Regions from separate parts of the Homo sapiens genome. Here all the other regions are reported to be linked to region 4. Evidence: microRNA targets listed by miRTarBase, many of them from high-throughput screens and not tested one by one. Region 4 holds a microRNA gene; each other region holds the end of a gene's coding sequence.

The links. Region 4 holds the annotated microRNA hsa-miR-541-5p (AAAGGAUUCUGCUGUCGGUCCCACU, at 3,859-3,883, shown strand). A microRNA usually pairs through its seed, bases 2 to 8, with sites in the 3' UTR of a target mRNA and lowers its output. Matches are read on the target gene's strand: a 7mer-m8 pairs with bases 2 to 8, a 7mer-A1 pairs with bases 2 to 7 and ends in A, and an 8mer does both.
Region 1: miRTarBase lists IREB2 as a target of hsa-miR-541-5p. Seed matches in the 3' UTR shown: 8mer at 6,410-6,417 and 7mer-A1 at 5,935-5,941.
Region 2: miRTarBase lists HDGFL3 as a target of hsa-miR-541-5p. Seed matches in the 3' UTR shown: 7mer-A1 at 1,976-1,982.
Region 3: the mRNA of TMEM135 is a reported target of hsa-miR-541-5p. Seed matches in the 3' UTR shown: 7mer-m8 at 4,749-4,755 and 7mer-m8 at 4,177-4,183.

The regions. Positions count from the first base shown.
Region 1 is chr15:78,497,459-78,504,624 of GRCh38, reverse strand. It overlaps IREB2 (iron responsive element binding protein 2), which reads right to left. Exons shown (of 22, transcript NM_004136.4): 22 at 3,172-6,592. The coding sequence ends at 6,482. Among named protein-coding and RNA genes, the nearest start is that of HYKK, 6.5 kb to the left of the region's middle.
Region 2 is chr15:83,133,396-83,140,395 of GRCh38, reverse strand. It overlaps HDGFL3 (HDGF like 3), which reads left to right. Exons shown (of 6, transcript NM_016073.4): 6 at 1,121-7,000. The coding sequence ends at 1,126. It overlaps TM6SF1 (transmembrane 6 superfamily member 1), which reads right to left. Exons shown (of 10, transcript NM_023003.5): 10 at 2,988-3,915. The coding sequence ends at 3,724. Among named protein-coding and RNA genes, the nearest start is that of TM6SF1, 29 kb to the right of the region's middle.
Region 3 is chr11:87,319,770-87,326,935 of GRCh38, reverse strand. TMEM135 (transmembrane protein 135) reads right to left here. Exons shown (of 15, transcript NM_022918.4): 15 at 1-5,735. The coding sequence ends at 5,603. It also overlaps the pseudogene LOC100420680. Among named protein-coding and RNA genes, the nearest start is that of TMEM135, 290 kb to the right of the region's middle.
Region 4 is chr14:101,060,646-101,067,811 of GRCh38, forward strand. It overlaps MIR541 (microRNA 541), which reads left to right and starts at 3,850; the gene lies at 3,850-3,933. It overlaps MIR496 (microRNA 496), which reads left to right; the gene lies at 1-29. MIR377 (microRNA 377) reads left to right here and starts at 1,405; the gene lies at 1,405-1,473. MIR409 (microRNA 409) reads left to right here and starts at 4,655; the gene lies at 4,655-4,733. It also overlaps MIR412, MIR369, MIR410 and MIR656.

The DNA of each region.
Region 1 (7,166 bases), not on the chromosome of region 4:
CAAGATGCGTTGTCATTTTTTTTTTTTTTCTTGAGACAGAGTCTTGCTCTGTCGCCCAGCCTGGAGTACAACAGTGCGGTCTCAGCTCACTGCAACCACCGCCTCCTGGGTTCAAGCGATTCTCCCGCCTCAGCCTCCCGAGTAGCTGGGACTACAGGCACATGCCACCATACCCAGCTAATTTTTGTATTTTTAGTAGACACGGGGTTTCACTATGTTGGCCAGGCTGGTCTCGAACTGACCTCGTGATCCGCCCGCCTTGGCATCCCAAAGTGCTGGGATTACAGGTGTGAGCCACCGTGTCCGGCCAGATATGTCATTTTAAGCGGGGCATGGTGTTGCATGTCTATAGTCCCAGCTACTCCAGGAGGCTTGGGCAGGAAAAGTGCTTGAGCCCAGGAGTTCGAGGTCAGCCTGGGCCACATAGTGAGACCCGTTTCTAGGGGGGAAAAATGTCATGTCATTGTATTAACGTTTCTTCAGTTGGCTACTGGAGCACTTTTAAGTAGTTGCTCTCAAACATAGCTCAGTGGCTGGTCATGGTGGCTCATGCCTGTAATCCCAGCAGTCTGGGAGGCTGAGGTGGGAGGACTGATTGAGGCCAGGCGTTCAAGACCAGCCTGGGCAACACAGTGAGACCCCCACCTCTATTTTTATAATTTTTTTAAAAAAGAGCTCAGCGATAAAAAAAAAAAAAAAACAAAACTGGAGTGAAACAAAATGAACAATTTGCAGTGAGATTATGGACATGATTTTACATTATAAAACAATGTCTCATAAAACAATATCCCAGCAGTTTTATGATACTTCCTTTATATATTACAAGTTGTTTAAAATGCTCAAAATTGGCTTTAGTTTCCACGGTGGGCTACAGCTAAAGCAGCACTTAGAGGAAAATTTAAATATTTACATTTACATTGGAGGAAAAGTGTTACAAAGCTGGGGGAAAGGAGGAAATTAAATAAGTAACAGAAAGGAAATACTTCAGAGCAGAAACCAATAAAACAAAACAAACCGGGCACGGTGGCTCATGCCTGTAATCCCAGCACTTTGGGAGGCCCCGGTGGGCGGATCACAAGGTCAGGAGTTTGAGACCACCCTGGCCAACATGGTGAAACCCCGTCTCTACTAAAAATACAAAACAAATTAGCCAGACATGGTGGCGCATGCCTGTAATCACAGCTACTCGGGAGGCTGAGGCAGGAGAATCACTTGAACCCGGGAGGTGGAGGTTGCAGTGAGCCGAGATCGCACCATTGCACTCCAGCCTGGGCAACAGAGCCAGATTCCGTCTCAAAAAGAAAAAAAAAAAAAAAAAATCCAAAACCAAAACCAAACAAAAAACCAGAAAACAATGGAGAAAATAATGTAAAAAATTGGCTCTTTAAAAAATTAACTCAATTTCTAACCCTTTAGAAAGACTAATCAAGGAAAAAAAAGAAAACACAAATTACCAATATTGGTAATAAAAAGGGACCCTGCCACAGATCATATAGATATTGATAGGGAAATACTGAAAAAAATGCTTAAAATTCAGTACTAACACCACATAAACACAAAATTCACAGTGACAACACACTTATTTAAAAGACAGGGTCTTGCTGTCACCCAGGCTGGAGTGCAGTGGCATAAATCATAGCTCACTGCAGCCTCAACCTAGGCTCAAGCGATCCTCCTGCCTCAGCCTCCCAACTAGCTGGGACTACAGGTGCACAGCACCACACCAAACTAATTATTATTATTTTTTAAGAAACAGGGTCTTGCTATGTTGCCCAGGGTGGGGTCAAATTCCTGACTTCAAGTGATCCTCCTGCCTCCTGCCTTGGCCTCCCAAAGTGTGAACCACCTCGCCTGGCCACACTTGTCATTATACCAGCAAATTTTGTGAGAATTACATATGCATCTGCTTTTGCAATAAATGCATTTTTCAAGTACAGAACACAGGTTTACAACATACATCAAATCAAAATGGTAAATCTGAAGCTACTTTGTAATTAAAAAGCAAAATTAGCATCAAGTGAAAACTGTAAACCAACTAAATGCTACACTGATGAAGCTCTTAAGTTTCCTCCTAGACTGCATATTCAAACTATCAGCTTGTGCCTATGTTGGTATTAGCCTTTAGGTAATGCAAACTTCTTAGAATACTAAATTGGAATCCTTAGAAAATTCTAATAAAGTGCCAATTATGGTTTATGATTACTGAATTCTAAGAAATAAACCTTACTCTTTTAGGTTGCTAATAATAGTGGGAAGAAAGGATACGTCTTTTTGGATGAGTGTCCCCGCCCAAATCTCATGTCGGATTGTAATCCCCAGTGTTGGAGGTGGGGCCTGGTGGGAGGTGACTGGATTATGGGGGTGGTTTCTTATGGTTTAACACCATCCCCCTTGGTGTTGTCCCAATAGTGAGTTCTCCTGAGATCTAGTTGTTTAAAAGTGTGTGGCACCTCCCCTGTCTCTCTGTTCCTCCTGCTCTGGCCACGTGAAGTGCTTGCTCCCACTTAATCTTCCACCTTGATTGTAAGTTTCCTGAGGCCTCCCCAGAAGCCAAGCAGATGCCAGCATCATGCTTCCTGTACATCCTGCAGAACCATGAGCCAATTAAACCTCTTTTTAAAATAAATTACCCAGTCTCAGGCATTTCTTTATACCAATGCGAGAACAAACAAATACACCTGGGATCCTGGCTCCCAGCTTCCGATGACTTGTTTCATGAACACTAATGAACGGGCAGCACAGGGAGCAGGCATCCTCAGCTGCTCCTGGATGGCATCTGGATGGCGGGACATTTCATTTTTGCTTTTTTTTTTTTTTTTTGAGACAGAGTCTCACTGTTTCGCCCAGGCTGGAGTGCAGTGGCGTGAACTCTGCTCACTGCAAACTCTGCCTCCCGGGTTTATGCTATCCTCCTGCCTCAGCCTCCCAAGTAGCTGGGACTACAGGCGCCCGCCATCATGTCCGGCTAATTTTTTTGTATTTTTAGTACAGACAGGGTTTCACTGTGTTGGCCAGGATGGTCTCGATCTCCTGACCTCGTGATCCGCCTGCCTCGGCCTCCCAAAGTGCTGGGATTACAGGCGTGAGCCACCGTGCCCAGCCGGATGGCAGCATATTTTTTACATCATGTTGTTTTATTTTCAACTACTACAAAACAGAACAAGAATCAAATGTGATAATACAATTTTCTTTATTAAAAATAATTTACAGCATCAGTAACATATACACAATTGTCATCAACTGAACTTTGCCTCCAATATATTTCTATACAATACTTAACATTATTGAACTTAAAACTGTTACACTGTTTTGTTGGCTTTAAATAATAGACAATGATTTTTGTCTATTACTTAGTGATAGACAAAGTGATTACTTTGTTACTTAAGTGAGATATATGGTTTCATAGCCACATATTATGTGTAAAATTGATAGAAACGTCAGCAATATCACTCTTTAGGGGAAAAAACACTGAAAAGCCAAAGTCCACCCTCTTCTTCTCTCTTATTACTCCAACCAAACTAAGATAGGATAAACATCCAGTATCTTAGTATCTCCTCCTAAACCTAAAGACAAAAGAAAGGTGTCTTCTATTCAACCACAGAAAAATGTCAAATAATTTCTTCTCATCCTCTCACTCATCACTGTGAAAGCAAATGCACACGACCTTGTTACCATATATGCAGGCAACTATGATTCTGATTTAGGTCCTAGCTTTACTTTCCTTTAGTACAACTGTTGTTTGATTACCAACGAAAAACTAAGCAATCTGGCTAGAGGGATACTAGTACCTTCTTTCAAATGTCAGCATGGAGATAAAACAAAATAGTGATAACTGTCATCTTAGAAACTTTTTAGATATAATAATGGCAATTCAGTGGCTGGATGACATTTCCATTGATTCCATTGTATAAGAGTAGCAAAACCCCAAAATATGAAAATGGCAATGATATGTAGCATAATGTTTTCAAAGTATAAAAAAAACCCTGCTGTTGGTAGTGACCTTTGAAATTGTACTTTAAGCTTACAACACTGATTTGCTTTTCTTGTGTGTCTGACATTACACTTCCTTTTTTTTTTTTTTTTTTTGGTAACACAAAATTACCCAAGGTATAGTAAACAAAGAAGACACAGACAATAAAAACTAACAGATGCCACATTTTGCAAACATAGCATTTGGCTAGAGGCAGAATTATAAGGTATACATATTAAAACATACATCCAAGACTCTCCTCCTCAATTTGAAACCATGTTTATCAAGTTTTTACTTCATTGTATATAAGCCAAAAAATTAAGAGAACCTTGATTTGTTCCTGAAATACAAGATTTGCTTGTATTATTACTGGACCAGGTAGACTGGATATGTGAATGTTTAATTCATAGTTAGCTAGCTTTACCATCATCTCCTGAATCAGCTGCTGAGGATGCCTGTGCCTCTGCCCATAACTATATATAGAGTATGCTTTCAAAACAATATAGGCCGGGTGTGGTGGCTCACACCTGTAATCCCAGCACTTGTGGAGGCCAAGGCGGGCGGATCACGAGGTCAAGAGATTCAGATCATCTGGCCAACATGGTGAAACCCCATCTCTACTAAAACTACAAAAATTAGCTGGGCGTGGTGGTGCATGCTTGTAGTCCCAGCTACTCAGGAGGCTGAGGCAGGAGAATCCCCTGAACCCGGGAGGCGGAGGTTGCAGTGAGCCAAGATCGCGCCATTGCACTCCAGCCCAGCCACAGGGCAAGACTCCGTCTCAAAAAACAAAACAAAACAAAATAGATTTGTTTCCCCCTGCACAATCTGGAATTACCATTTCTTCAGAGCACATACAGGCATTTCATCTTTCAACCTGTAATTTCTCCTAACTCATGTTTTCATGTAAATTAAAAACACATGCACTAACAAATAAATATACAGCATATATCAAGAACACAATATAATTTGAAAGTGTCGAAGAAAATACTTATACAAAATTTAAATAAAGAAATCATTTTGTCGAACTCTAGTCCATCTTATTGTCTAAACACATATTTGCAAAATATTTTCAAAAGATTGTATGATTATGTGCAAAGTTCTTAGTGGTCTTCATCCACTGGTTTGGTAGTTTCAGCATTTTGCTTACAACAAGTAATTCTTTATGCAATGTGAACTAATTCTGAATTGCAGTAACTAACTAGGTCATAGAAAGATATCTATGTGAAAAAAAATCACTACAATTAACCTTTAGCCTGCTAGACTTAGTTTCTTAATTAAAAAAACAGTATAGAACCTTCTATAATTAATTTTCCAACCTTTTTAAAAAAAATTACCAAACATCTTGTTGACAGAACATTTGATGTGATGGGCAGACATGCATATTGAGGATATATAGTACTCAGCAACAACTTAAGTGTTTTATCCTTACGGTCAGCTTTGGTTAAAACAGTAACATAACAAAATTAATAGAATCATGCATCGCAGGTGATAAATGATTCAAAATGACAGGAAATCAATTTAATTAAGAAATAGCAACACTTAAAAAATGCATAGGGTTGAGCACCCGTATTATTGAGGGTGGATAATTTAAATGTATAGAAGAAATCAGTTCAGAGTTTAATGATTGAATAACATTCTCTTTAGCAACTATGAGTGTGAAATTTTGGTTAATGATACCGAAAATATTAGGTTATAGGAAGTTACAGTATTACATAAGGTGAGCAAAATAATCTAATCCAATTAATATAACGCCATCTGGGGGCTTGCCAGACAGTCACAGTGGCAAACTGCTGAAATATGAAAGGCTGCATCATATGTGATACATATTCCCACTGCTAATACATGGTGCCACACAATCAGTTGTATCCTGCCATGGTCCATCTTCATATGTGGAGGGAACCTTGGCTGGATTGGACAGAATGATTGTGACCTGGGGCAGGTTCCATCCCTTGCAGTTAGACTAAGGATAAACCTGGTTATATGACAAACTAAGAATGCCAAATGTGTCCAGCTCAATTCTGAAGAGGAATTAATATACTTAAAAGGTCCATTTATAAATGAGATTCCAATGGCCACAATTTTAGAGTCTAATCTGGCTTCTTATATTTCAATCTGCTACTCTTAAACCAACAAACAGTAGTACACAGTTTTATTGGTGCAAAACTAAACAAATCCAGGAAGGTTATTCATATAAGAATCTTCAACACAAATTCTGCCTTTATTTACAAAATGGTCTGATAAAATATCGCCCCCCCCCCATACTTACAGGTCTCTTCCACAACACACTTCACACGTTGATTTTAGCAATATTAATAGCACCATTCGTATATTATTTAAAATCAAGAAGATTTCATTTCAGTTACTATGTTGATTCATCATCATTTACATCCATGGATGAGATAAGTGAGTATACTGGGACTATCTGCTGCTCCATGGTAAGGATTCCTGGGTCCAGCACAAAAGGCTTTGCAGTTACCAGTTATGAAAGGTATCTATGGTAAGTAGATACTATGAGAATTTTCGTGCCACAAAGTTTAATAATCCTCCATGTTTGTATAATGTTATTTCCACATCATCTTCAAACGAAGCAATCACGCTGAATACTTTTCCAGTGCTTGTCTTGAAAGGAGCAAAAACATCTCATGTGAGCAAGTAAATCTTCCAGGTGCTACTTGATGGTTAAGACCATTTGTCTTCATATTTAATGACTATACTTGCCACAGATTCTGTCTGATTTATCTTGGTTCTAATTTCTTATATTCTGATTGCCTGAAACTTTGCTGCTGCTTGAAAAACACCTGAGATACCTGACCATGGGCTTCATAGTTAAGTAGAAAAATAGCTGCATTTAGATTTTGACTTATTAATTGGGGAAGTTATACTCACTACTCACATTCATTTTACACCAAATATTGATTGCATGTAATCAGTAACTCCTACTCTTTCCCCTTTTTTCTTAGTTGTAAAGTCTGTTTTGCTCTAACTTTGAACGCTCAACTTTGCTCTCTTTGGAGTGGTATGTATGCCTCGGTTAAAATTAGATCAGGACAGCAAAAAAATGACCACCATGAAAAGAAAGCTGACACTTGTTAAGTGGAAGTCAAGATTCCCCTTCATGTGTTCTTTTTTTCTGGTATAAGCACCCAGTTCTTTCCACTTTTCCTCAGAGAACATGAACTATTAACATAGCTAG
Region 2 (7,000 bases), not on the chromosome of region 4:
GAGTATAATCTTATAACTGGTGTTTTTGTTAAGAAATAATTAGGAGTCACCAGGCACTCCATTTTTTAAGTTCACAAATTTCAAACTTTTTTTTTAAAGATTTACTTCCTCATTTTAATAGGGACAGAAGGATAAAAAGTATATTTCTGCCATCTTAGGGGGATGGAAGTTTTGGTAACTCTCTCTCCTTTGAAGGTCCTGGAATCGTTTATTATAATATATACCATTTAGTATACATGTTGGGCTGTCTGAATGAGAACATACCCATCAGTGTGCACATGTGCTTACAAACATGTTCATTCATTTAGTGAAATTAAGAGTGGAAGCAGGCTGTTTTCAGAAAAAATATTTGAGGGCTGAGTTCCCTCTTTCATTCATCCCATGAGGGTATTACTAGGGGGTTTAATATATTTGGGTTAATGATGAGGGGGAAAAAATAGCATCCTTTTGGGGAAATAGAACCAGACACAATTTAAAGTGGGACCCAAATAGAAACATAATTCTTTTATGAAACAAATGTTTTATTTTCTGTTTGTCACACGGATGCCATCTAAATTTTAAAAGAAATCTAGGCTTCCTCTTATTCTTTATGTTTTTTTTAAAAGCAAGAAGTCAGAGACTTTGTACATCATGATTAACTTCTACATTTGTTTGAGCTATGTGTCACAAGTAATTAAGTTATAAATATTCTGAAGATTAATTGGTGCACACTCTAAGTGCTTTTTAAATTTTACACAGCTTACCTTTCTTTCTGAAGAATGTCCTCACAAAGATAGATTATATCAATTTCTCCACTGATGATGTATTCCAGCAATAAACATAGTCCTAGAATTGTAGAATGTGCACTGCTGCACTCTGTCCTAACAGACAGTAGACAAGGTTTATAATTTTTTTCTATGGGACACTAAAAATACCCTAGGATTTCCTTTAACTTTTTGCACTGACAGGTCTAAAGCAAAGCCACAGAAGCTGCTCTTGCTCAGTAAGTATTGTTAATGCTGCAGTGCATATTAAAATTTCAGAAAACCCAATTATGTACTATCTAGGTGTGGATAGCTCTCATTGTTAGTATCCTAAATCATCTAAAGGCTTGTTTTCTTTCTTTTTTTTTTTTTTACAGACCTAACTACCATAATGAATGCTGCATATTAAGAGAAACCACAAGAAGGTTATATGTTTGGTTGTCTAATATTCTTGGATTTGATATGAACCAACACATAGTCCTTGTTGTCATTGACAGAACCCCAGTTTGTATGTACATTATTCATATTCCTCTCTGTTGTGTTTCGGGGGGAAAAGACATTTTAGCCTTTTTTAAAAGTTACTGATTTAATTTCATGTTATTTGGTTGCATGAAGTTGCCCTTAACCACTAAGGATTATCAAGATTTTTGCGCAGACTTATACATGTCTAGGATCCTTTTATCAAGGCAGTTATGATCATCGTTTTCCTGCCTTGACCCCACCATCATCAAACACTCAGTTAAATATAAATTAACATTTTTTAGATGACCACTCAACATAATGCTTAAGAATGGAATTTCCTCTCTGTGACAGAACCCAGGAATTAATTCCTAAATACATAACGTTGGTATATTGAAGACGAAATTAAAATTGTCCTTCAGTTTTGAGGCCATGTGTAAAGTTTAACCATATTGTAAAATATCTATTCCGTATTAGAAATAGCTAGTTGACAGCTTATACTTCTCAAAATTCATATTGTTATGTACACAAACTAAGTTTCTATATGTGAAGTTAGTGAGTCTTTTTGTGTTACTCCAAAATAAAGGCAATGATTTATTTTTTTCCCAGTGCCAATACAATTTTGAGCTAAGCACTCAAGGTGGATACTTTACATTTTAAAGCTGGAATCAGCAACAGCCCTATGGGAAACCAGACAAAGCATTGACTTTTAAATGTAGACTTTTAAAATAAACTGTTTTCTTTTGGAACTACAATTAGAATAGTTAATATTCATCCTTAAACCATTATTATGTGTACATTATTGTTGCTATTGTGATAATAGAGAATTTTATTTATTTTTATGCCAGCTTATATTGTGAGAACACATTTAGTCAGTTTGGGTTTTATCAATCCTGTTAATGCTTGTCCTTGGAACATCTTTCGCGTATTCACGGTTTGTAGTTGAAAAGTTTACTGTAAAAAAATCAAAAACAAAAAAATGTATTGTTTTTACAGAATAAATTTATTGGAATGTGTACTGGGAGTAAGATTTGAGGTTGTAAGCAAACTAAGTTAGTGTAATTTGGCTTCATATATGTAACGTGAGGTATTAATGTAATTCATATATTAAAGCAAAAATTGTTCACAGCAAGCTGACAATAGAATCAAGTGCAGGTGAGGGTTTTTCTTTTTCTTTCTTTTTTTTTTTTTAAACACTCTCTGGGTTTTAGATTATTTGAAAACACTGTAGGGGATGATGGGGAGATGACTACATGATTTGCTTACACTTACATATTTACCAGCCCAGTGGACCCTAGATTTTGTAATTTGATATTATCCATGCATTGATTTGTATCCCATTTTCTTTTGGTTTTCTTGATGAGAGCTAATAAAAACATGAGAAAATGTGAGCAGACCTAAAAGCCTAGGGCCGTTAATAATGATGATGGTGATGATGGCAGCTAAGGGTATGAAAGCACCAGTCCATTTATCATTCCAGGGCACAGTGAGGAGGTGGCTGTTTGTATTTTTGGTGTGTTTCTTTCATTTAGTGAATACTGATTTTCTCTAGTATACTCAACATACAATCCCAAACATGAAAAGTTCATAAAAAGATAGTAGGGATGTCGATCTAATACTTCTTCCTTAAAAGGTCCTTTTTAATTTTGAATATTTGAATGTATTTTTTAATTAATGAAATTTAATTCATCAAAAGACCTCTTCATTGCTCACACTGAAACATAAGGGGAATGTAGATGGCATTTTGAATTGGAATATACAACTCACAAATTTTCTTTAAAAGCGTTTTATGTGTATATATGAAATGTTTCAAATTTAATAAGATTTGTCTTTATAAGAGGCCAAAAATAATTTTATTAAAAATATACACAGAAATACAATAGAAATATTTCCAGCCACCAATAAAACAAATGTTCATTAAGGATAGAGATAAAGTTACTGATCCCTATTTAGCTGTTTAAATTCACACAAAAAAATTTAGTAAAAGTAATTTTCTTGAAACAGCAGCAAATAATAAACTTTCCTTGGGAAAACATTTTTCAAACAACATTTAAAAATATTCTGATGATTTGCCTTTTATATTGAGTTTAATAATGAAGCATATTCATCTTATTTGCAAAAGTTACTCCTCCAGTCTGCATTCACTGTTTTGAATTTTTTAATATGCACAGGCCATATTCTCTTTTGAATAGTTTCATTTCATGCTCACTACTGTTGGCACTAAATTGTAATTTTTTACACTTATAATTATTTTATATGTCAAACAATATTGAGATGGATGATCAAGTTTATTCACAAATGATTTTGAATATATTTCTTTAAACAAACTGTTTCTCAAGAATTTCCATTTTCCTTCAAAAAAAATTTACACAATACCATATAGCTCACACATACAGTGCAGAGCAAGAATGTACATATTCTTAAGTACTCACGTATGAGAAGAGAGTGAAATGGGACAAAATATCAGTACCAGTATAACAAAAGTTAGTAATTTAGAAAGGAGGAACATGAAGTAATATTTTTATTCCACTTTTTCTTCTGCCTTTGTTTTTATGAAGAACTCTGGTTTGTAGATACAACGATAGGCCAAGAGCTGAGGAAGAACTCCATATGCTATGTTTAATGCTAAAAAAAGGATTTTTGCTTCTTCAGGGACTCTGTAGACATAAGCAGTTCTAGCATGAAGAGATGCACCAATGTGAGAAAACTGAGCCTGTTGCATTTAAAAAAAAAAAATTGAGTAAGCATGAAACGTGTTCAGTTGGATGCATGATGAGTTCTGAATGGTTCATTCAGGCTACGTTTCTGTGCCCTCAAAACCAGTCTCACCTGCAGGCAAAATACCTTCAAACAATCCAGAGTCTTTAATGTCAGAGTCTTTCATTAAATTTAGTCCTTGATTAAATTTAGGGCCATTCTTGATATGACTGTTCAAATAAAGTAGATATTATTTAGTGTAGTTTTATCATGCCAGTTGTGTTTTTTAACCATCAAGTGCCCCTTACCGAACATTAGTGGCTCAATCTAATAGAAAAATCTGAATAAAATCTCAAATTTTTTTCTGATTTGCGTTCTGGAGATCCTGCATACAGACTCAGTTGTGGTTCACAAATTGCGTTCCAATAAAAATGAAGAAAGCGCAGAGTTTTAAAAAACAAATATTTTTAGCATAAACTATTGAAAGGGAAGCACTGGGGGGACCTCAGCTTCATTTATCAGTCTTTCATCTACTCCTTGCAGCAAGAGCTCATACCCTTTCCCTATGTGTTTTTTGTTTATTCATTTATTCATGTATTTGTTTTTTCTGCAGCTTTTAAAATATTAAGGGTTGTTTGTAAGATAAGGTTGTTACCAACTTGGGTGGAGGTAGGAGTACGGTTGCTCTTTGTAAAATGGCAAATGTACATGCAGGCAACCTTTTTAAATCAAATTATAATTTATTTAGAAGTACGACATGTCAGCATTATCCGCATTTGCAAAATGGCCTCCCTCTCTACTTATATACTTATTCAGAAAACACATTCAGAATGTGCCAATTGGTCTTTTTTGATATTTTTCGCAAGCACAGAGGAAAACCGTATTGGAAAGGGTAAAACAGACCACAGCAGGATTAAAAGCTCCTGTCAGAAAATTTCCTCAGAAGGCTTGTATCATTACAAAATGTACCCCTGGAGTCTGCATTTTCATATCTTGCTGAAATTCAAGATACACATGAATAAAGGATTGGGAATCTAAATGTAATAAGTAGTAAATTATCAGTTCATCAGGATCAAAGAGACAAAAGACTGCACTATAGAGAAGGCATAGAAGTAACAAGAATGAAGAACTAGATAATTTGCTTTAAATACATATAAGTTATTTTACATTTCTTCCATATGAAACCAATTTATTCTGCTGAGTGATTTCACAGATAAAGGTGTTACTTACTTGACTTCACCATGACAAGAAAAGGACAAGTTTTTTTAAGCAGCATCTTTATGAATTTTTTATCAGTGGCAGATATTTTAATGGGCTGCATTTTTACAAATTCCTGATATATTCTGGAGACCTGTGGTACATTTTTGCTACTCTGGAGATATAAATTAAATTAGCATGATGTATTGCCAAGGACCAGCACGTGGATTGTCTACATTGTGATCCATGAGGCACTGAGAGGACTCGGCCCTCAGATACAACTCCCCTGGGTAGATGCCCAGGCAGAACCCAGCAAATGTATATGCATCTCTGGGCTCTGAGGACAAAATGCCTTGAGAGTAAAGGGCACTTTCAGGGCTGCCCTGAGGAGGTGCTTTCTGGACATTCTAGGAACTCTGAGCAGGAGCATGGCTCCCATACTGTTTTTCCTTAGGGCCTGTTTTGAATAATAGTGTTTTTCTGAATATATAACCAAGCATTTTCTCTGGACTGGAAGCCACATTTGATCCCTGGTTCTCAGAAATCTGGGTTTGGTGGTTCTGTCTTTATAGATACTTGTACACATCACAAAATCACCAAATTTGGGGAAATGCCAACCATACTTTGAGAGAATAAATATGAGCAGTTGTGCCTACTTGCATAGGGGAGCCTGTGTAAAAAGTCAGTGATTCCGTAGGCTCTTTTCCTGCACTAACCAGTGCAGTTAATACCTCACTTTCATGAACAGCAAACTCATGGCAACATTAAGTGAATCATGGCCGGGCGCAGTGGCTCACGCCTGTAATCCCAGTACTTTGGGAGGCCAAGGCGGGTGGATCACCTGAGGTCAGGAGTTCAAGACGAGCCTGGCCAACATAGTGAAACCCCATCTCTACTAAAAAATACAAAAAATTAGCCGGGCGTGGTGGCAGACGCCTGTAATCTCAGCTGCTCGGGAGGCTGAGGCAGGAGAATTGCTTGAACCCGGGGAGTGGAGGTTGCAGTGAGCCAAGATTGTGCCACTGCACTCCAGCCTGGGTGACAGAGTGAGACTCTGTCTTTAAAAAAAAAAAAAGATTCATGTCCTTAGATTAGATTGTAAGCCCACTGGGCAGGTACTGTGTCTAATGTTTTGTGTGGCACCTGTCACATTGTTAGAGCTCAATAAACGTTCAACAACAATGGACTTGTGACTGTCAAAATACAAAAAGGGTCTACAAAGCATTTCTCTAGTTTTGTATGTATTTTAGTAGGCCTCTTTATTCAGAATTATTAAACAAGGCACAAAAATTTTAACATTCATAATCAAAAGAGGCATTTGTATGTGAGAGAAGAACTCTAAGGCCAGTGGTGTGCAGCTCCCAGTACTGCTCATAGTCCTAATGGATGTACTTATGGTGGCCACACTTCCAGCTGAGTGAGCACCTGACCATAGCTTTCTCCTAAGGCATAGGATGTTAAGTGTTCAGGGTTCTGAAGTTCAGAAAAACAGTCTCACCTGAGGAGGTTTCTCTTCCCAAGCACATAGCTAATAAAGGGCTGCAGGTTTTCTCCTGGGTGATGTTCCCAGCAGCACAAGGCCTCTCATGGCAGGACCTGAAGAGCTCAGCCTGAGCCTGTGCTGGGGTCAGGTGGCTCAGTGAACTCAATGCTGCTGAATTAACAGGAGGCCCAGGATTACAGATATGAGTTGTTGATCCTAGAAATTTCTCCAGAATTTAGCAATGTGAGGTTGAGTCCCTAATAATTTTTCTTCCACTTCATTCTAAATCATTTTCACCTTACAGAAATAATTAAGAGATATACTCTGATTTTTTTTTAAGAATGGATGATTGGAATGGCAAATGAGACAATAAGGTGAACAAAGGTTAAATTTTAAGAGCTGTTTTCTTACATGTATAGAG
Region 3 (7,166 bases), not on the chromosome of region 4:
TAGTGAAAAAAAAAAAAAAAAAAAGGTCCTCAGATGATTCAATGATGCCTCTAGTTTCATAGATTTATTTATCCTGCCCTTTGGTTCTGAAGAGAGCCTTAGTGCTATCCCTGAGCAGTGACAGGCTATCAAAAACTGCCGACTCAGATTCAGATGCAACTGAATTTCTTCCTGAAGCTTTGCAGATATTATTTACCTTCAATTTTCCCTGAAATAAATAGAAAAATAAGGACTCCTGTTTTTTCCCTTGAGAGCTCAAGATGAAGAAATACATAGCAAAGATATGGCAGGAAAGCATGGGCCAGGAAAGGTAAAGAAAAGAATAGGAGAAAAGAGATAAGGCTTAAAATATGTTTATAGTCTCTTCTCTCCCATTCCTTTTGGCATCCAATCCCATAATGACCAACCACAGAATGTACTTCATGCTTTAAACCTTTGGCACTATAGCTTCAGGGTCCTCTTAGGTGACCAAAAATAATCTGAAAAGAAAATTAATTTAAGAGATCGATTAACTACTGGAAAAAGTTTAATAGACACTGAAGAACTAGACTTCGAAAATTAACTGGTCCTAGTTCAGGGATGGAGGAAAGTAGTAATGCAGGGTGACCTCAGCCAACATAGGTCTACAGGTCTACTTTATGGAAGCCTGAATCTCTCAAGACAGAAAGGGATGCTGAGTCTAAGCAAGGCAGATAAAGCATGTTGTATGCCTATGGCCTCTATGCCAAGACCAGGGAACATCCTATTATCCACGGTCTGACAAGATTAGAATGTTATGCTCTGCAGAGGCAGCAGGCTGGGGGTGGGGGAGAGTATGGCACAAAACTGAATATTAAAAAAAAAAAAAACTGAACAGGCAAGCTATAGTAGTTTGTGAGCTAAAGAAAGAAGTATAAACTGCTCTTGGCCCTGATGTCCCTGTTGGTGACCAGATGGTATGTGTGTCTGTGGTAATATACTGGGATTTTCAGGTCTGCTGGGACAAAAGATAAAACCCAATACATTATTTCATGTAAAACATATTCGTAGGAGGGACAGATGGAAAAAAAATGGAGAAAGTAAAAGAAAATAGGAAATTCCAGAGTCAAGTGATGTTACGGGGTTTTAAGAAGAGAAGAAATTAATTGTTCTGGATTTAAAGGCTTCACATACAGAGAAACATCTCCTTCCATATCTGTGCAATTATCTTCTACATCATCCTGCCTAAGAAAAACAGAGCATATAAAAAAAAAATCAGTGTCTCTGGAAATGTTTACTCCATTGTTATCACCGTTATGATCACTCCAGAGCCTCTCACTTGAACGGCTGGCTTAAAAGGTTGCAATGAAGTCCAAGGAGACTAGTTAACATAAAGTAACACCAGCAAGCAGAGAATGGACAAGGTGGCAGGGAGAGGGAGCAGCAAGAGAGACAGACAGAGAGAGAGAGAGAGGGAGAGAGAGAGAGCCCACATAAAACAGCAACAGAATAATTTCCAAAAGACCAGATATAAATTCTTTCCTCCAACCAAAAGTCAATCATTTTCTTCTGTGTGTAAAATAGCACACATTCTTATTCACCACAGCTGTAAGCTTAAGGCCATTCACTCACTACTCTGCTGTAGTCCTATGACACTAGCTATATCATGGCCAACTTACTGCCCCACTTCTGTTTCCAGAAGTCACACACACTAGAGTCAGTTTCATTTCTTTGTAGTTACCCTTTTTGCAACTACAGGGCTATTACAAAGTCACCTGAGGCCACTACTTTAAACAGAAACATAGTACTACAAAGCCCTAGAATCTAAGACAGCCCCCCAATCTGAGGGTCATCTCAGTCCTTGACACTCCTTTCTTTGTTAATTCCACAAGAAGAAGAAATTATAGAGCTGGCACCAATGGTGGCTTCAGCACCAATAGTAAAGGGCTGGAGGCAATTGTAAACATCACCTCCACAATGAAGGTAACCTTATTACTCATCACATTCAAAGTGCAGCCCTAAAGAAAATAATCACTTCTTATTCCTTTTCTTGTATTTTTTTCTTGGCCACTCATTTTCAGCTGAGTGAAGTATTCTACTATGTGAAAATGATTACTAGAAGGAGGTGTTAGGAGAGAGAATGTTTATAAGATATCTTAGTAAGAAATGTATACTTTTGCCTTTGGGAAACAAAGGACAACTTTGTTGCTGTGTCAAACTACTTAATACTCATACAAATAAAAATATGGCTAGGTACCGTGGCTCACACCTGGAATCCCAGAGTCCCGGGAGGCCAACCCAAGAGGATCACTTGAGGCCAGGAGTTTAAGACCAGCCTGGACAACATAGCAACACCTTGTTTCTACAAAAAAAAAATAAATAAAATAAATATTAGCCAGGCATGGTGGCACATGCCTGTTGTCCCAGCTATTAGAGACTGAGGGGAAATAATTGCTTGAACCAAGGAATTTGAGGTTTCAATGAGCTATGATTGCACCACTGTACTCCAACCCGGGCAACAGAGCTAGACCTCAACTCAAAAAATAAAAAAATAAATCACACGGAGAATTTAAGGAATCTCTGGGCTAATAATTTCTCTGCTCCAAAAACAACATTTGGGCCATTGCTCCAGTGGTCAGTTCCCTTCAGTCCCACAAGAAGCTTCCTAATTAGCACCAAGGGAGAGGTTGTGACACAGGCAAGTGGACGAAGCTCCCTGAGAGTAAAGGACATTGCTTTTCATTACCTATGAAATGTAGAGCACACAGAAGCTCAGGGATATGATAAAATATAAGCAGGAAACAATTACGTCAGCATTAACAACTAAATGAAATGTTAGCCTAGATACAATCTACAAGGAGACGAACACTCGAGCACAACAAGAAAATACTGTGTGACATTTGCTCAGTTTGGATTCCATCAAAAACATACATGTTCAGTCTAATAAAAGTTCATTATAAAATCTGAGAGCCAAAAAAATATAAAATTCTAAATTAAATAACAACTGACTAAACAACGAATGAAGGCAAAAAATAAACTAGATATCAACTGAGTGATGACTATGCTTATAGTTCAAGAAAAAAGTTACAGAAGCAAAAGCAGAATTTATGGGAAAATAAAACTAAACCAAAGGTGTTACTTCAAAAATGAGTAATAAAATGGATCCTGAAATTATTTGATGAAAAACTGCTGAGAATTGAATAGATTTGAGACAATCTGTTATCTTGCAAACTCAATCTTTACTCGGTTGCTACTAGTTCTAGGATTTTATTAAAACAGAAAATAGCAACGAAATGACCATAATACCACTGCCCCAAATGCACGGTTTTTCAATCTCAATCTATATAAAAATGTCAGAAAGACTAAGGGGACATATTATTGTTTACTGTAATCAGTTCCAGTGAAAACTTACCATTTCTTCAGGATATAAATAAACTAAAAAACATATTTTGGAATGCAGAGATCTATTTTACTTTATTTATAATGCCAAAAAGTTGTCAATCAATACCTGATTAGTTAGAGGTAGAAAGGTAATCATTCTGATTGTCTTCAAAAACACAAAGTTTCTTTGTGTTTGCTCAAACAACTACACTTTGCAGTCTGTCCCAATGAAATCAAACTGGACTTCTCAATCCACCACTGCAAATTGGTTATTCACTCAACCTATACATTCATCATTGTATTCTGCTTCATGATAGCTATTTCATTTTACATTTTACATAAAATTTAAAAAAATGACTGCAATTTATAAAAATGAAAAGGTAAATTGTAGAAATACACCTTTTTGACCAGCAAAATTTTACTAAACAATCTCAGCAAATTTCGTAATTCATCTTTCAATATCACAGTCTTTTAATGTCAATGAAAACAATAATTTATGAATTAAAACATCTTTTTAAACCTGACAGGAAAATATATAAGCACAATTTCTGGATAAAGAAAATGAGGTGCAGTTCTCAGGGCTTTAGTACTTCATTTTAAACAGTAAACACAGTACCAACCATCGTTTTGATTCCAGTGAATAAAAAGTTAAGATTAAATTTATTAATCAACTTTGAAGTCTGAAACCGAAATGATCCTTTAACAGCATTGCCAAATAAACAGGTCAGTTCTACAAAGCTAATCATAATGCCAAATTTTGACCAAATGATAAAGTGGCTCTGTTACCATAGTACCAGAGTCTGTCTTTTTGTTGGGTTTCTGTTTGCCATAACAACCAAGGATTGAATTACATTTAAGCAGAAGTATACAAGGCTTGATGAAATTGAATATGAGGGATTAAGCATTTTTAAAGTATGGGTTATAATTCCTTTTGCAACACAAGTTCTACTGCATAATTTGCACTGGCCTAAAAACTTTTTAGCAACAAAATGTATTTTAAAAATATCATCATCCCTACATGTCACATTAACTGTAGACCACTTCAGCTCTTTATTAACATAGAAAAGTATAACTTTTCCCTGAAAAACTGTAAATAGCGACCATATTTCAATCACAGCTGTCCTGAACTACTCTCATTATCAGCAGGACTTTATGGTGTCACCTCTTTATTCTAACAGTAAAAATGGTGACAATGATATTCAAGAAGAAGGTTGGAGAACCTGAATGGAATTAGTGACAAATGGACTTTTTAAACAACCACTGGATTTTTATAGTGTTTTCAGGTGCAAAACATCCATTACATAAGTTAAACAGCTGAGAGGACACAAACTGCCAACTTGCCAAGACTACTTTGTTCCATAGGATTTTGATCCCTTCTAATACAACAATGGCATATAAACTGAGCTATGAAGGATTATGTCCATATAAATGAAAACAAACATCATAAACCTATAGGAAGTTTAAAAGTTTTGTTTTTAAATATTCAAGTGTAATACTTCTGTGAAAGATTAAAACATACATTTCAACTTTATCGGATGTGTCCATTTCCATTTGCCCCTAACTTGCCATTAGTACATAGGTTCACTGGGCTGCCAAATAGCCCAATTAACTGGTCATGAAGAGAGATGATGTTATTAGTTGAAAAAAAGCATGGATACCACGACATTTATCCAAATGGTATGAGACCCATCTTTGCATCCCTGAAGTAAGAATGGCCACTTCTCCAATTAAATTGCTCTACACGAAAGCAGCACTGTCCGTGGAGAGTTACTTCAAATCTATAACATTCCACTACTACAGATACCAATTCAAAACTTTAAAAAAATATATAGACCAAATCCATGTACCCGTGATCCTTTGTAAATCCTAAAATGTAGAAATAATCCTAATTTTAATCAAGAATTATATTGGAATGAACTAAAGACATCTTTTAAAGTAATTTTAAGTGTACTCTTGTTTGTTATTACACTTCTACGTAGATTATATAATATTGCTTGTGGACATAATTTGATCAATAATATATAATGTCAGTCACTACAGTGATCCAGAATCTTATTCTGGCTATGGAGGAAGCTTAATTATTAAGCAACATCTTCCTAAAAAGCTTCTGAATTTCTGATTCATAAGAAAAACAAAACAAATGAAAAGAGTATCTCTAACTGAAATAACACTGAAGTTCGAGCTTGGGCCCCCTCCTTTGTGTTCAACATAATTAACTCTTCAAGATGAAACATTTAGTCACATTAATAAGTTACAGTCATCTTCAGGAAAACTCTGTGGGCAACTCTGGTGTTACAGTTGTGTATCTTGGATCCAACCTGGGGATGAAATCCTGAAAGTGTTTAGATGCACCAGTACCAAAAACATCAAGGACTTTTCGGTTCATGACAGCAAATCTGTAAAACAAAGAATACAGTAAACAAGTATTAATATAGTTTATAAAATAAAATAATTCATTTTAGTTGACTTATCTTATGTGGGATGGGAAAACAGAAAAGGCTAACGTGGCAAAGGATCTAAATTCAATGGCAGATTCAAGTCACATGAAGGCTCTTCTTCGAGATACACTGTCTCATATTTTATTTAAAGAGATAATCCAGTTAGGATTAAGGATTAAAGAGATAATCCCCAGATCTGAAACCGCAGAGATTACAACCATTATTTTAAACCCTTCTAGAATTCTTTCCACTAGACTGTATCAAATAGAAAATTAGGTTCATTATTATTTTTATGATGAATGAATTCACAGGAAACTAAACAATAAATGAGCTAACATTACCAATGAGGCAAAAGCATTAAATGTAATTTCTCTCATAATTGACATCATAATGTCTCACCATCAAATGAAAACACATTCAAATGTGCAAACATTTAATGACTAAAAGGCAAACAGCATATAGGTTTTCAAATGTTTAATAGACACAACACAGTAAAAATATACCCTAACGTTATCCATTACCTAACCTAAGATATATAACATTTTTTAAACACACAAATTTAGCTAATGTACAGGATAGACCTTCTGGGTCTCTGTGCTTATTCACAAGCATTTCCTTTCTGGAGAAAACAGCTGAATGAAATTAGTTTTGAATCACTGGCCAGCATTATTCTGACAGCCTATAAATGTGACTTTCAGTACTTTTCCAAAGTAAGTTCCCTTCCAAAATAATCAATTAGTAAAACTTATTAATGTGCAGAAAACTAAATGACAAAAAATGATTAAACAATAACAATGTAAAGGATCTACAGTGACATGGATAAGAGGGAAAGTTCTGAAGCCAGACTGCCTGGTTTATGTTCCAGCTCCTTCATTTACTAACTGAGTGACTCTGGCAAGCTATCTAACCCCTTTGTACATTTTAGTTTCCTCATATGTAAAACAGGGATAATAACAGAACCTAACTCTTACAGTTAGGATTTAAGGATTAAATGCATATTTATGTATACATGGATATTGTATGTGTGCCTCTTAAAACCATATGTTGGACATTGTCAGCACTATACTAGTATTTGCTATTATTATTAATAATGATAGCAATTCATACATGCAATTTACCCAGCGCTACTATAAGCATCTTAATTTTCCTACAACCATACAATGTATGCATTATTATTTCATTGTAGACCGAAAAAAACTTAGGCTCACGAGGGTAAATAATTTTCCATAGCAACACAGCTGAAGGTAGCAGAGCTGGAATCAAACTTAGGTCTGTCTGACTCCAAAGCCCATGCTCTTTCTATTAGGTCAAAATGCCTCCCAAAGAATTAGATTAAGATCAGGGGAGAAAACAAAACAAAGCAAAAATGATATGTAAGGTAGAGGAACA
Region 4 (7,166 bases):
TCTCCTTTCGGTACTCAATTCTTCTTGGGAAACGTCACGAGGGGAAAGCCCAGCCGGCACCTGCGCAGGGTAAGGAAGTGGATCACCTCCGCATGACAGGTGCTCTCTGTGTGACTTACATCACTTGGCTCATATCCCGGCCATCATTAGGAGGAATTCCCCGAAATGATGCTGACGTTTTAGTTGACATGGTGGTCTTCTAGTCGCATCCTTGAAGACTCGTCAGTGAATAAACCACATTTAGTCAACCTTTTTAGGTGTGAAATCATCTTGGCTGTGTGGCACACTTTAGGGAAAGGAACTCCTGGCTGAATGGAAGACATCCACATTACGCCCTCAAATACCTTATCTTCTGGGTGACCTCTGGGAAGCAAGGGGTGAAGGGGGTTTCCTCAGCAGTGAGAATTAATGTTGTTTAAAGACACATTTCCATGGCACGACTCGGTTATTCCTACTGCAAGACGAGAATTGTTAATAGCATTTATTACTACCTTATGTTGCCAGCTGTGTGCCCTTGGAAAATCCCTTCACCTATCAGCTCTCTGGGCCTCAGTCTCTTCCTCTGTAAAGCAGGGTTAACAGCGGAGTGGAAACGTGCTCTTTGTGAAGTGTCTAGACAGCGTCTGGCACGTGGCTGTAGGATAAGCATTGTTTCTGAGGATGGTCATTATATGAATGTTATGTCATCTGCACTCATTGTCCTCTCGCCACTAGAATGGAAGCTCCCTGAGGGCAGAGTCCTTGTCTGTTTTGCCTGGTGCTGTGTCGCCAGATGTGCACAGTAGGTGTGATGCTGAATGAATGAATAGGCAGCGTGACCTGTTTTCTTGGTTGAACTCTCTTTGAGGCCTCCTGGAATGGAGTGCATGGAGTACAGTCACCTGAGCCTGTGCTGTCCCTGTGACGCAGCCCCACCCACCCTCTGAGGATGCTGCGCTGGACGAGGAGTCGCCAGCCTTCAGGTCGGGTCCTCCCTCAAACCCCTGTAGGCTGGACTGAACACGGTCACATGGTTCATTGGCAGCCCCCTTCTCTGTGTGAAATCCTGCTTCAGAGACTTCCAGAGGAGATACCGGCTCTGGAGGTGGACCTTGGTGTTCCAGCCCCTCTAGGGTAGGTGACCAGGGGCTGACTCTAGCTCGGGCTGACCTGTGATGTGTGTGTGCATAGCCTCGCCCCCACTGCCTGCTCCAGGGCTACAGAAGCTGGTCCATGACCAACCATGTTCTGACCACTGCCTGGGGGGCTTCTCGGAGGTAGAGAGAGAGAGAGAGCAAGAGGGGAGAGAGCGAGCCAGCAAGCCAGCGAGCCTGCAGCTGGAGTCAGCAGGGAGGTCCCGCAGGCAATGCCGCCTTTGGTGAAGAGGCATCTCGGTGTGTTCTTGCCCGTGCTGATGTTTGACCCTTGAGCAGAGGTTGCCCTTGGTGAATTCGCTTTATTTATGTTGAATCACACAAAGGCAACTTTTGTTTGAGTATCAAATCCTGCTTGGGATGGCTTCCGGGACCCAGTGGCAAGCTCAGGGGCATCTACACCCCTCCCGTGAGCAAGAATGGACGGGGTAGACGTGGGTGGTCTGCCCTCTGCGGTCCTCTGCGGTGGATGAGAACAGATGTCGCTCAGAGAACACAAGCTTCATTCATGATGGGGGCGGGGCTCGCGGCCCGGGGAGGATGGCGTTGGTGTCGCGTCGGCTTTAGCTCTTACCCTGGACCCTGTCTCTTTACATCACCATTTTGGCTGTGTTGATCCCAAAGACATTTTGACTCCACCATTTTTTTTTCGGAAGGTATTTGACCTCGCGGATACACAAAGAGCTCACACTTGGCAGGGTCTGTGACGAGTCTGCAGCCCCAGACCCCCGTCTAGCTCACAAGCACTGTGCTTCTTTCTGCACCTTTCCTTGTCTCTATCTTTCTCTTTCTATCCCCCAACCAAACATTGTTCCCAATTTTCTCCTGGGTTATGAAACAAATAGAGGCTATCAGTATCTCATCCCATTTGTATTAAATAATACTGATAAAAATAATCAACACAAAATAAAACTAAAAACAGCTGAAACGGCACAGTGCTAAATGTGTTCAGTTGACTACAAATTGGCAGAGGAATCCAATTTTCTTGACAACATTTCAGCTGTGACATTTGACCTGGGGAAATAGCAAGCTGCCGACGTGGCAGCCATGGAAGGAAATTCACGGTGGCGGCGGTGATAAACAGTGATATTTGATGTAGACAAGAACACATTGAGGAATCAAATCTTCATGCAGATTTTTAAATGGAAAAAATTGATCCTAATGAAAATGATTTGGGGAAAATAACAAGGGAAATAAGAGAAATGAAAACAGCTCAACAGCGCGGTCAGGAAAGCTAAACAGGGAATTGGATTAGTATAATGGCATTGGCTCTGAAAAACACGTTTCTATGAATATCAGTGTTGGTACAATTCTTGTGAAGGTGGTTACATTTGTGCGTGTTTACAGTGGAGTTGGTGGGGTCAGTAGGAACCTAGGGTCAAAAAATGGGATACAGTCTCCCCCTTTATGCAGTTGATCTTTTCTTGCTGCCCCAAACCTTCCCGAGAGCTTCCCGGAAAGGTGTGCTGACTTCAGGCGTGACACACTGGTAAGGCGTCCTCCCGGGGATCTGGGTGCATGTTGTCCCCAGAGCATTCATACGTAAGTGACAGGCATCACCTGGTCTCCCTCCATCCCCACGGAGGGTTCTGGGTGAGACGCTGACTCCGGAGGGAAGCAGAAGTTCTACGGTCAGTGGGGTCTGGTCTTTCAGGACAGTTGCTTCTGTGAACTCAGAAAATCTGAGACAGCTCTTAGTTAATTTAGAAAGTTTATTTTGACAAGGTTGAGGATACACCCGTAACACAGCTTCAGGAAGTACTGTGGTCAAGGCACAGCTTGGCTTTATACATTTTAGGGAGACATGAGACATCATTCAGCACATGTAAGAAGTACATTGGTTTTGTCTGCAAAGGTGGGACAACTTGAAGCGAAGGCAGGAAGGAGGGAGCTTCCAGGTCACAGACAGGTGATACACAAATGATTACATTCTTTCGCGTTTCTCATGAGCCTTTCCAAAGGAGGCAAATCAGATACGCATCTGTCTCAGTGAGCAGAGGGATGACTTTGAATGGAATGAGAGGCAGGTTTATCCTGAGCAGCTTCCAGCTTGAGTTTTCCTTAGTGATTTTAGGGGCCCGAGATAACTTTCCTTTCACACTTCCAAGGCTATTGATGAACACACAGGCATCCAGGAACATTCTGGGGTTCAGTCCTTCCTCAGACTCTGCTGTTGATACCTTACATGGTTCCATGCTGGCCCCAAGGACGTGCCCTTCGTTGGTGCCGAATGTCATTTGGTCATAGAGGCTGAAAGTCATTCTGGAGTTGATGTTTCCAAGGTCAAAAACCTTGCTGGGGCTGTGGAAAGAGCTCGTTGTTTGCTGGCCTGCTTTGTTGGTGACCAGCATTGCACATGGCTTTCTTTTCAGATCAAACCCTACCTGGAGAATTTCCAGAAGCAACAGCACCCTCAGGAGGCGGCCTGCAGCCGGAGCCCTCTCCAGGGCAGGTGCCTGAGGGCCGCCCATGGGACAGGCCCGATTGTACCCACGGTGCATGTCATCTGTTCCACTCCTGCTGACTCCGGTGCGTTCCGGGACCACCTTGGGAGGTGATGCCTGCCCCAGGAAGGAGGCTCTGATGCAGGTCAGTGCCCATGGCTCCTGAAGGGAAGTCGTCTGTGACATCTTTTCTTTCTTTACAGCAGGCCTCGCATGGCTGGCCTCTTGCTCCACTTGTAGCAAGGCGCAGAGGGCTCTCTGAGCTCATGCCAACGTCAGGGAAAGGATTCTGCTGTCGGTCCCACTCCAAAGTTCACAGAATGGGTGGTGGGCACAGAATCTGGACTCTGCTTGTGGCATCCATCGTCTGGCCCGATGCTTGCTGGCTGCCCGCTCCAGGAGGCACCTTCTGGGTGTTCTCTGAGTCTGGGGAAGGTTGGGTTCTGAGGTCAGGGCTGCCCTGACCCTTGTGAAGAGAAGACATCTGTGACTCACCTGCTTTCTTCTGCTGCATTTATCCCCCCAGTCCCTTATTTTGAATGTCTCACTTGCTTTATGAGGCTAATCAGATGGTCAGCCAGCTGTTGATAACTGTGAAGTTACTCTTTGAGGGATCCTGGGGTGATGCCTCTGTGGGCTGGAGATGGTGCTGGTGAGACCGCAGGTCTGGGGTCAGCGTTGTGCCCCGTTGAGCTCCCGCCAAAGGAATCCTCTGCTGGGAGGGAGGCTCTGTGCTTGTGCAGGGGTCCCTACAGGGTCACCCCCTCTCAGGGTCTGGGAATGAAAAGCGGGTGCGAGCAGGGTTTCATTTTCATCTTTAGCAAGGTGCCCAAGGAAGGTTGCCGTCTTTTCAGTATAAGATCCTACCTGGGTCTTGCACTCAACTTCTGGGAAGAGTCTCTAGATTCATTCTGGAAGGGGTTGGAATCGTTGGACTTGGTGATTGGGAACGTCCTTGGAGAGTGTGAGGCTCTGGGCTCTGAATGCCCAGACCTTGTGCTGCCCTTGGGGGAGGGTCTTCTGCAAGCACAGCCGCCTGCAAGCATTCACCTTAGTCCGAGCATCTGAGCCTCTCCATGGTACTCGGGGAGAGGTTACCCGAGCAACTTTGCATCTGGACGACGAATGTTGCTCGGTGAACCCCTTTTCGGTATCAAATTCCACCAGGGAGGCCGTCTTGGAGGCTGGGGCACCTCGGGGAAGGACGCCGGCATCAGCACCATTCTGGGGTACGGGGATGGATGGTCGACCAGTTGGAAAGTAATTGTTTCTAATGTACTTCACCTGGTCCACTAGCCGTCCGTATCCGCTGCAGCCTGTGGGGCCTGCGGGCCGGGGAGCCGATCGCGCTTCAGCTCAGCGCCTTTCCTGGTACTTGAAGGGAGATCGACCGTGTTATATTCGCTTTATTGACTTCGAATAATACATGGTTGATCTTTTCTCAGTATCAAATCTCACCTTGGAGGACCCGTTGGAGATGAAGCCCTTTTGAGGGTAGGAGCAGGACGGGTGCTTTGGAGTCGCTGCCTCAGTGGGGCCTGGTCACCGAGAGTGGGCCGGGCAGGGGTCTCTTTCCTGTCTCTGTGTCTTCTCACCTTTGATGTCCCATCCGTCCTCAGGACTGCTTCCCGGGGGCAGCGCTGGCACCACGGGACGCGGCAGCCACGTTCTTGAGCCGATGGCACTCTGGGTACCTGAGAAGAGGTTGTCTGTGATGAGTTCGCTTTTATTAATGACGAATATAACACAGATGGCCTGTTTTCAGTACCGCTACCGCCCGGTGGTGTGCGGGCGCCACGCCTGAGGCGGGACTTTCCAGGGTACGTGAATGCATGGGCTGGTGTGACATTTGTCATCCTTTCCCCTGACCCCCGCCATTGAATCATTTTGGGAGAGCTTTCGGGGGGCCATGTGGACTTTGGGGAAGATGCTAGGGTTGTGCACTGTGGTGGGGGGCGGTCATGAAGCTGATGAGCAATGGTGACGGGGCTCAGTCTGTTTTTCATGGCCAGTGTCATCGAGGCAGAGGACACGGGGGAGCTAGTCCCGCTGGAAGGCATCCTGCTGGAAGGCCACCCACCCCTCGCCAGGATGTTGGGGGCGGCTGCATGCATTCCCTGCACCTGGGCTGCCTTCTGCTCATCTCAGTGCTGTGAGACCCTGGGTGGGAGCTGGTGCCTTGGGTGGCCGTGTGCGTGTGCTGCTCCTTGTGGTGCCTGAGGAGAGGTGGCCTGTGTTGCATTCACAGAAATCATGACACACAAGACACGAGCGGCCTCTCTTCAGTATCAGATCCCACCTGCATGATTCCTGCACCTGCTGATGTCGGGGAGGTCCGGTTGCGCGCCCTGTGGGCCCCCAGAGGCATGGCTGGTGGCCGAGCACGCGCTTGACTTCCACCTGCAGCCCTGTGCTGGCCTCCATCCTGGAGGCGGGTGGGTGGCAGGGCCCTTCCCTGTGGAAGAAGCCTCCTCCCTGGAGTCAGTGCTGCTCAGTGGTACCTGAAATAGGTTGCCTGTGAGGTGTTCACTTTCTATATGATGAATATTATACAGTCAACCTCTTTCCGATATCGAATCCCACCTTGGATGCCTTCCTCTTTGCTGTCAACTCCAGGCAGCAGCTGGCTCTGCGCTGGTTGACCCTGTGGACTTTGTGTAGGACCTGTGTCACTTGGCCTGTTAATTTTCCAGCTCCACTCTGTTCTGGGGGGCTTTGGAAGTGTGACAGAATGGCATCCCCAATTCCAGTGTCAGCGGGAGCACCCGCCATGCCCTTGCTTCCGGTTGGCACATCCCCCAGGCTGGGCTGGCTCTCAGCTACCCGATGCTTATGTCATATTTGCACCCCTGGCCTGCCCAGACTACAGGAAGATGACCAGAGGCCTGTTTGCAGCTGACCTGGAGACTTAGTGACTCCAGAACATGCTGCCCATGCCCAGGGTCCAGGGCTGAAGGCAAGGAGCACCTCAGGAGTGACCCCAAAGAATGAGCTAAGGCTGTCCTTTATCACTCATTGTTGATCAGTGAGCTCCTGGGCTCGGGAGATCTTCCTGAGCTGGGCTCCCGTCATCCCCTAGTTGAGACGTCGCTGCCTTGGAAGTCACAGCCTGTGCCTGCCCTCCCCCTTGTCCTCCTCCTCGGGACCGCTCCTCTCCATGCCTAGCATGGGAGTGGGGATCCCTGGCACCATCCCTCTGGGCTGCCTGCTCCCACTCTCCCTCAGCACCCCTCTTCCCCAGCCCCTGGGCCACAGCCCTGCTGGAGAGGCCGCCCCACAGGCTAGGTCCCTCCAGCCTGTGGCACTTGGGTCTCCCTCCAGTGCCCCTCCCTCTGCCAGGGAGAGCATTTCCAAGTGCAGAGTCCAGCTGTTTAACTCCGCTGCCCAGGGCACCTCTGCAGGCCCCTTCCCTTGGGCTTGGTACCAAAATGATCCGAGGACCCCCCAGGCCCTCAGAGTGGCAGCCCCCCTCTTCTTTTGGAGCCACAGCCTATCCCCCACGTGTTTTCATCCTTCATTCTGGCCTTGCACATGCCCCTCCTTCCGGAGCTGGGTCCTGGGCCGCCCTGCTCTGCCCTCGGCTGCCTCC